Homo sapiens: one gene and its partner. The protein of the gene in region 1 purifies or fractionates together with the protein of each later gene. This does not show direct contact. Each region holds a gene or a part of one and is shown on either strand. Other genes may lie near its edges.

What was found. Proteins that work in one complex are often made in the same cells at the same time.
Region 2: the proteins of CCDC181 (region 1) and PPP1R7 purify together in Homo sapiens (affinity purification with mass spectrometry; one large-scale study listed by BioGRID and IntAct). This does not show direct contact.

Annotation. Positions count from the first base shown.
Region 1 is NC_000001.11:169,424,675-169,428,849, forward strand, and holds the start of CCDC181 (coiled-coil domain-containing protein 181), read right to left. Parts: upstream 2,801-4,175; 5' UTR 2,614-2,800; intron 277-2,613; 5' UTR 254-276; coding exon 137-253; intron 1-136. UniProt on the Homo sapiens protein: Microtubule-binding protein that localizes to the microtubular manchette of elongating spermatids.
Region 2 is NC_000002.12:241,156,967-241,160,466, reverse strand, and holds part of PPP1R7 (protein phosphatase 1 regulatory subunit 7), read right to left. Parts: intron 2,661-3,500; coding exon 2,605-2,660; intron 1,984-2,604; coding exon 1,918-1,983; intron 1,255-1,917; coding exon 1,124-1,254; intron 136-1,123; coding exon 1-135. UniProt on the Homo sapiens protein: Regulatory subunit of protein phosphatase 1.

The sequences.
Region 1 (4,175 bases):
TGAGGATAATAGTAATTTGCCCAATGTAGATCAAAGAAATTTTGTGATGTTTAGATGAGATAATAATGTGAAAACCTTAAAGAATTGCAAAGCACTTTGTAATATAATTATTATGAATGCTGTTGGCAATATATACCTCTATTATGCTGGCATCACTTTTTTCATTTTCATTAATTAACCACTCCAGGTCCTTTTCAAAGTCATCTTCGTATTCTTCACTTTTCTTTGAATCAGTATCTTTATTTTCATTCATTTTCTGTTTGTGAAGGAAATATGCTGTAAGATTTTAAAAGATAAGGTATATGTTATGCCCACTCTAGAGGAGGAATGGAGTATGGAGATTAATGCTGTAGGTAAGCTAATTAACACAGAGAAACACAAAATAGAATGTTCAAAATGAACATGCACTTGAATACACCATGAAAGAGAGATCTGCAATGGCAAGACATTTCCATAGGTAAACATTCCTAAAAACTCTCCCACCTTCCCCCTGTTCCCCAAATAGTTATTGATGTTGGTTCCTTTTCCCTCTCAAGATAAAGTTAATTTTTGGTACACTTTAGGTATGCTGAATTAATAAATAATCCACCAGCTGTTTTAGCCATTAGCTTCGCTTTGTTCTCCCCAAACCTTTGGCCAGACTAAGTTATTACTGAATAATAACTGTTATTCAACTTAATTATTATTCAAAAATAACTGTTAATTGTTCAACTGGATAATTATTGTTTTTTTCTAAACTATTCATTGGACTATAATTCTTTCTAGATACTTATTTATTTTAAACTAAAAACACAAAATAGATTTGCTAAAGGACTCAAAAGTAAGCCCTTCAATAATTTCTAAATCAGGTTGAGCACAAATTTTGAAGTGATCTGGAGAAATCAAGTCAACACTTCAGAGTGAGTTTCACTTCCTAACTGCAAGACAAGCTAAATTGCTTAAGCTATTATATCTAACTACCTACCAATTAAAAGCAAGGGCACCATGAATGATACAGAATAAAACTCACTGTAATCCGAAATACTTACAGTAAAAATAGTACTTTTCACAGTCACAATGCCTTGGAATAATCAGTTTTCTTTTCAGAGCAGGGATCTTGAAATTTATTATTTTAAGATGTTTGAGTTACATAAATATTATAAGAATATTTCTTTGGAACTCTTCAGTGCTTTCCCTTATTTTATGATAAACATAGTTCTGAACTTATAAATAAATGGTTGCCTGAAGACTTTAGTAGATATGTTTTATTGTTTACAGAGAATCACACACACATGAAAACTAAAATTTAAAATGAAAACATAAAATCTGTATAATAAAAGCACAGTAATTAAAAATTTAACAGGTTAGGGGTCTTTAAGTCATACTATTATGCCATAATTCAAAGGAAAAAAAAGCCATAGTTAAGGTAACTCTGAGAAGTAAATTAAGTCACATCAAATCTGAAGTGCAATTCTTTTGTTGTAACTTAAAAACAAAAAAACACCCTCATGGCCGGTTCTCAAGTAAACAAAGAACATAAATTACAAACTCTGGTTATCAAATCCCTTAAGCCTTTTTCAAATGCGTCACAGGATATTCAACCCCTTCAATTCTTTTAATCTTCATCACCAGGGTACTGTCCATATGGTACAGAATCAACAAGCTAGAACAAAAATACATCTTATACAAACAAAATCACTTAACACTTCCTACTTTATGCTTGTGAGTTTCACACATTTAAATTTCAACATTTATCATCAGTAAAAATCTAGGTAAACGGCTTAGACCAGCTCTACCCTCTTAATACGGAACTGTAGTAAGAGACGGAAATAAATTCCTTCCTCCCTGAGTGTCTGGTAAATCCCATGTGGATAGGTGAACTGCCGATCTTTCAGTAGGAGTCTTAAACCAAGTCCACATGTATACATAATTTTGATAACTTTCTTCCAGAATTCAGGATATTCAAAAATAGTTTAAATAATTGGGTCCCATCTTACAGCGTTTTAAACATATGCTTGCTTAAAAATCTAAGAACTGAAAGCATGTCAAAGAGAATGCCTTTTAATATAAAGTAAGTACTTAAGCAAAAACTAATCCATACATCATGAAACCATCTGGCCCATTATTCCTGTGTATCCTGCCAAGACTGTGATCCTATAAGTAAGTTTTTAAAAAATCATAAACTGTCACAAAGTATGATGATAAATATTTTATGGACTTTAGGTGATAATTTTAATCTGTATTCAGGATCCCAAGGTACCACCAACGAAATGAATACCATTGCCTCCTCATGGAAGCTACAATTTCGGGAGTGACTTTTTCTCCCAGGGACAAAATTATTACTTTCCACGTTCAAGAACTTTGAGAGGGGAAAGAATATGACAAAAATTTAGTCTAAGCTACTCTCAGACGAGTATCCTTCATACATAGTGAAGAAAGGTGTTACCAGACTTCCCCACCAGTGCCAGACTCGGTGGACCTCGGACTCCAGAGGATAAGGCGCCACCAGAAAGCTTCTTCCCTCACTACCTACCCTCCCTCCCAGCTATACCAGACGTTTATACCTTTACCCTCTATCCCACCATTAACATCTCCGCATCGTCCTTCCCTTCTCTCCCTCTATATCCCTCTTGCCTGTGTAAAATGCGGCGGCTGGGATCACAGAGATGGCCGGGGGAGTTCTCCTCTCCTCCTCTTTCTAAGCTCTTCACATTGAGGCAAAGGAGACCCCGGCACCTGCCTCCGCGGCAGCCAGGACCACACTGCCATGGCAACAGCGTGCCTCTGCGTCCTCCATCCGGGCCTCTCTAACTACGAGAGCGACAAAAATCTGCGCAGGCGCATGCAATATCCTCAGACCACCGACCCCTCCCGGCACCCATCCCGGTGCTTGCGAAGGGCCAGTGAAGCTGAGGTTTCTAAGGGGACGACTAAGGAATCCACGCATCACTAACGTTATAGAGACTCGCGAAGTGCCGCTGTGTTGGTTGTGAAATTTCCCTCTTGTAGCTGTCTCTCGTCAGATTTAGAATTTCTTAGGACAACTTCTAAAACTATATTTCTATATGTTATGTGCTTCACAGTTAACGTAGAAAAGTAGTTTTTAGTTTTCATTAGTAGATAAGCAAATTGCTAATGAGTTACCATATTTTTGACCCTCAGCTTCTTTTTTTCCTAATCAAAACCAAAACTTTACCCAAGAGAGTTGCCAAAGAAAATAGGATTTTTGCTCTAGCTTTGAGGCATGTCAAAATGGTCAACTAGAATTTTCTCAAATTCTGCTTATCTTTATGTATAAAGGCAAAGCAAGATGAATTTAGATTGTGGTGAAAGTTGAGATGATTTTAACAACTATCCATTCCCAGCCAGAAATAAATAAGAACTGGGAGAAGTAAAAATATTTCCTCAGTACAATCCAGTGTGTTCGGATTATTTTTAAATTGTTTATTATTAGGATTTCTATCACTTGATGTGATGGAGAGCACCTTTTCTCCAAGAGAGGCAATGTAAAATTAAATTTTTAGATATTCTTCAAGTTATAGACTTAAGGTCTTTTAAAATGGAAGGTTAAAATGAATTGTAATATTGAGTGCACTTCCTAGATGTGGTGTAGTTGTAATGACCTAATGTTGCTACTGCTTCAGCGCTTGAAAAAAGACGCTCCCAAAAAAGGTTATTCACTGCTAAAGGTTGAAGGAATTTTAGTCAAATCTCCTTTAATGGATGTAGAGTTGTAGAGTTACTTACCAAAGCTGGAAGTAGACCCTAGGTTTCAGAACTCCTAGGTTAATAGTTTTTTCCTCTGACCATCCTCCTAAATTTGTATTTTTCAAATAATGGGTGATAGCAGCTTTTTTTTTAAGTATCAGGTTTTGGGGGAACAGGTGGTGTTTGGTTACATGGATAAGTTCTTTAGCGGTGATTTCTGAGATTTTGGTGCACCCATCACCTGAGCAGTGTACACTGTACCCAATATGTAGAGTTTTTTTGTTTGTTTCTTTGTTTGTTTGTTTTGTTTTTGAGACAGAGTCTCGCTCTGTCACCCAGGCTGGAGTGAAGTGGCACGATCTGGGCTCACTTCAACCTCCATCTCCCGGGTTCAAGCGATTCTTGTGCCTTAGCCCCCAGAGTAGCTGAAACTACAGGCACGCCACCACACCTGGCTAAGTTTTTGTATTTTTAGTAGAGATGGGTTT
Region 2 (3,500 bases), on another chromosome or scaffold:
ATCTGTAGTTGATGTAAGTTGCTTAAGTTCTCAATTTTACTGATTTTATTGTTGACCAAGAAGAGTTTTTTCAGTCGTGTCAACTTGTCAACCCCTTCGATGTTTCTCAGCAGATTAAAAGAAATATCTAGAATCCTGAGAACAACCAAAACAGTTTTTTAAAAAAATTTCACGAGCATAGGTTGCATAGAACTCACAATTTAACCACTAAAGGTGGCGTCCCCATCAGGGGACGGCAGTCACTACCGGGTGGGAGAGGGTGGGGGGTTCTGACTGTGCCCCTGCTGCCGCCTGGCTCACACTGATGCTGTCATGAGGGATTTGGAGGCTGCCCAGGAGCCCGGAGCAAGCCAGAGGCAGCCTACAGGCTCCTGATGCCCTGGCTCCCAGTATGGTATTTGAGGCAGAAACTATGTTTTGTTCACACTTGTGCCCATGACAGGACCTCACACCAGGCTCTGCACACAGAAGGGGCCTGAGAAGTATTGAATTAGAAACAGAAACAAAACAAGCAAAAATGAATGAGCGACAAAGGGCAGAAATCCAGGTAAAGTTATAACTAGGACCTGGCTCCTTCTTTTTTAATTTTAATTTTAATTTTTGTAGACAGGGTCTTGTTATGTTGCCCAGGCTATCTCGAACTTCTAGGCTCAAGTGATCCTCCCAATTTGGCCTCCCAAAGCACTGAGATTACAGGTATGCACCACTGCACCTGGCCTAGGACCTGACTCCTTAAATTAGAAATGTCACTTTTTTTTGTAATTAAAAAAAAGAGTATTCAAAAGGCAAGAGGCAATTCTGGATTAACTTTCCTCTCTACCGATCTCAGTATCATCCCTGAATGGAGGCTTTCCAGAAGTCCCCACTGCAGCCTTCCCATCAAAGATTTACTTTGGAAGTCAGGATTGTTCAGGAAGCCAAAGACATGCATGAAGCCGATGAGGCCTCCTGGAGCCCTGAAAACAGGAGGCAGAGACTTGGGATTCAGATGCAGGGCAGGACCCTGTGGCAGAGGCAGCCTCTCAAGGGCTAAGAGCCAGCAGGAGGTTGGCTCTGGAGACTGGACACCCCCCACCCAGTGGCCTTCCCACCATGCTGTTCTCCTGTGGGTCTCATGACTCACTCCAGCTCTGTTAGCGCCTCCAGATTCTCAATCTTCTTGATCTGGTTGTCGTAAAGATCCAGCTCTCGAAGACTCTGTAGCTCCTCCAGATTCTCAATGCATTTAATTAAATTTTGGCGGAGGCAGAGAGTCTGGGGGATGGGAAAAGGGACAATTGACACAGGCAAGGGGGAGGCCACGAGAAGGCCTCAGCTGATACTGGAGGACACAAGAAAGGCCTTTCTGGTAGAAGGACATGTCTTCATTCTCCTGCTGTTTCCTAGAAAGGTGCTGACCTTTGAGAGGCAGGTGGGCAAGGGCACTAAGCTATAATTCCTTAACACACCTGAGGAAGGGCGGGAACCCAAAGGGAGGCAGGAGGCAGGCTCCCCACCAAGCAGGCCAGTTGGGGAGGGAGGCGTTGGCCTGGGGTGTGGGTGTCTGCCACTTCCTGGCAGAACATAAGAACCTTTGGTGGGCTCAATTTTGACAAATTCCAATGAGAGGCACGGAGGACTGTAAAAGTCAGCGAGTGCCTAATTGAACACAGGCACAGAAACCGAGGCAGGCCAGAGTCACAGGTCACTGGCTGCCTGGGCTCAGGAGAGCCAGCCCCAGGGCTGTGCCTCAAGTCCCTCGACTGCTGTCTCACACCTGCTGTGCTCCCAGTAAAGAAAGGCCTGCTACAAGGTGGAGGCAGCCACGCCGCCCACAGGCTGGGACAAGGACCACAACTCAGGACTGACTGCTCGATTCTGGACTTATCCACATCCTATGGGTGAGCGTCATAGTCCCCTCATAAGAGTCCCTCTCACCTTCACTTTCTTCAGTACCTCAAATCCTTCAATCTTCCCTATGCGATAGTGATTCAAATCAACATCCTGAAACAAAGCAGAAATCTATACTCAGCTATAGCAAAGTGGCTGGAGACCTGTGTCGTCCTAGAAGAGGCGGCCTGGAAGTGGGCAGCAGTGGGGGAGGCAGTGCCAGGTGGGTCTGCAGCAGACAGATGTCAGTGACAAGGTGTGCTGCGGGGGCTCTTTGGCTTAGTGATGACTAAGTTTTATGTAAAACTGGCCCTTAAAATGATTGGTACATGACATCTTTTTCTCATTCCTTAGATCCTGTATGCACAAAACATAAGCTCAGGTTCTGAGGATATGCACCCCATCCCATCACCATCAGAGACACGCTGTGGGCTCAGGAGGCCCAGTGGCCAGTCATACACAGCCTGGGGCCATTGGGACCCTCATGTATAATGTAATCATCAGACCCAGACAATGTATGAGTCAAAGGCATCTCATCTGCCACACAATCCTCAAGGGTCGAATAGACATGGGGATAACAATCACTGGTAAGAAAAACATGAACACGGGACTCTGACTCAACCAAGGGAGGCTTAGGCCACCTCTCTAGGGAAATAACTTACTAATCTCATACAAGATAACCTGACAGGGTGGTCCATCACCACGCCCAAGGCTGGGCTGAGCAGGCGGCATTACCTCTGCATCTCTGTCCAGGTTGATGGTTTCCATGTCCACAGGCAGCTCATGTTCTTCTGAAAAAATAAGAAAAAGAGATTTGTTCAGAACCCCATTAACAGGAGGCACTGGTGAAGAGCTGCTTCTGGCTGAGGTCTGGGGCTGTTTGGTGCCCAGAGCCAGCTCAAACCCCGAGGAGGAACCAATGGGAAGGTTTGCTGAGGACCTGGAGAATGTGGCAGGGTTAGACCCTGCTCCAACAATAGTGATGTTTTAAGCATTCTGAATTTCCTGAATTCAGATATTGGCAAAGGTCACCAAACATCCATCTGTGCCTTTGAACTTCCTGAGAAAGGAAATGTGTTTTGAACCTGTTAGTGGGAAGGAGGGGAGGAAGTAGCTGAGTGCAGGTGAGCAGGGTAGCACTACTGCCTTTCCGTGACTCCCAGAGCTGCAGAACTGGCAGCAGCCTGCCTCCCATGTAGCTTTTCTCTTTTTGTTTGTGGCAATAAACCAGGCCATTAGAATCTAGACCATGCTGGGCACATCAGATGCTCTAGGATGGGCCTTTTATTGCTTTGGAAGGTGGCCCAGCATCTACAAACACTTCCCTCTGCAAAGAGCAAAACAAAACAAAACATAGTTCAACAGATAGGATCAAAGAAGCTCACTGAATAATTTAAACACACTTCTCAGTGGGGAGACTGGTGAACTCACTCCAGCAGAGAAGCCCATTGGATTTCACGAGGACTCTCTACCCCGGAGCCGGCATCCTCTGTGCGGAGGAGGGAGAGAGCTGCTCTCCCTGCTGAGGCGACAGCTTCCCTGTTAAGCACTTCCTCATTTCATTTCATTGGAACCTACTTCAGCATGTGTGCTGAAAAGGACTAAGACACACACAGATGCACACACACACG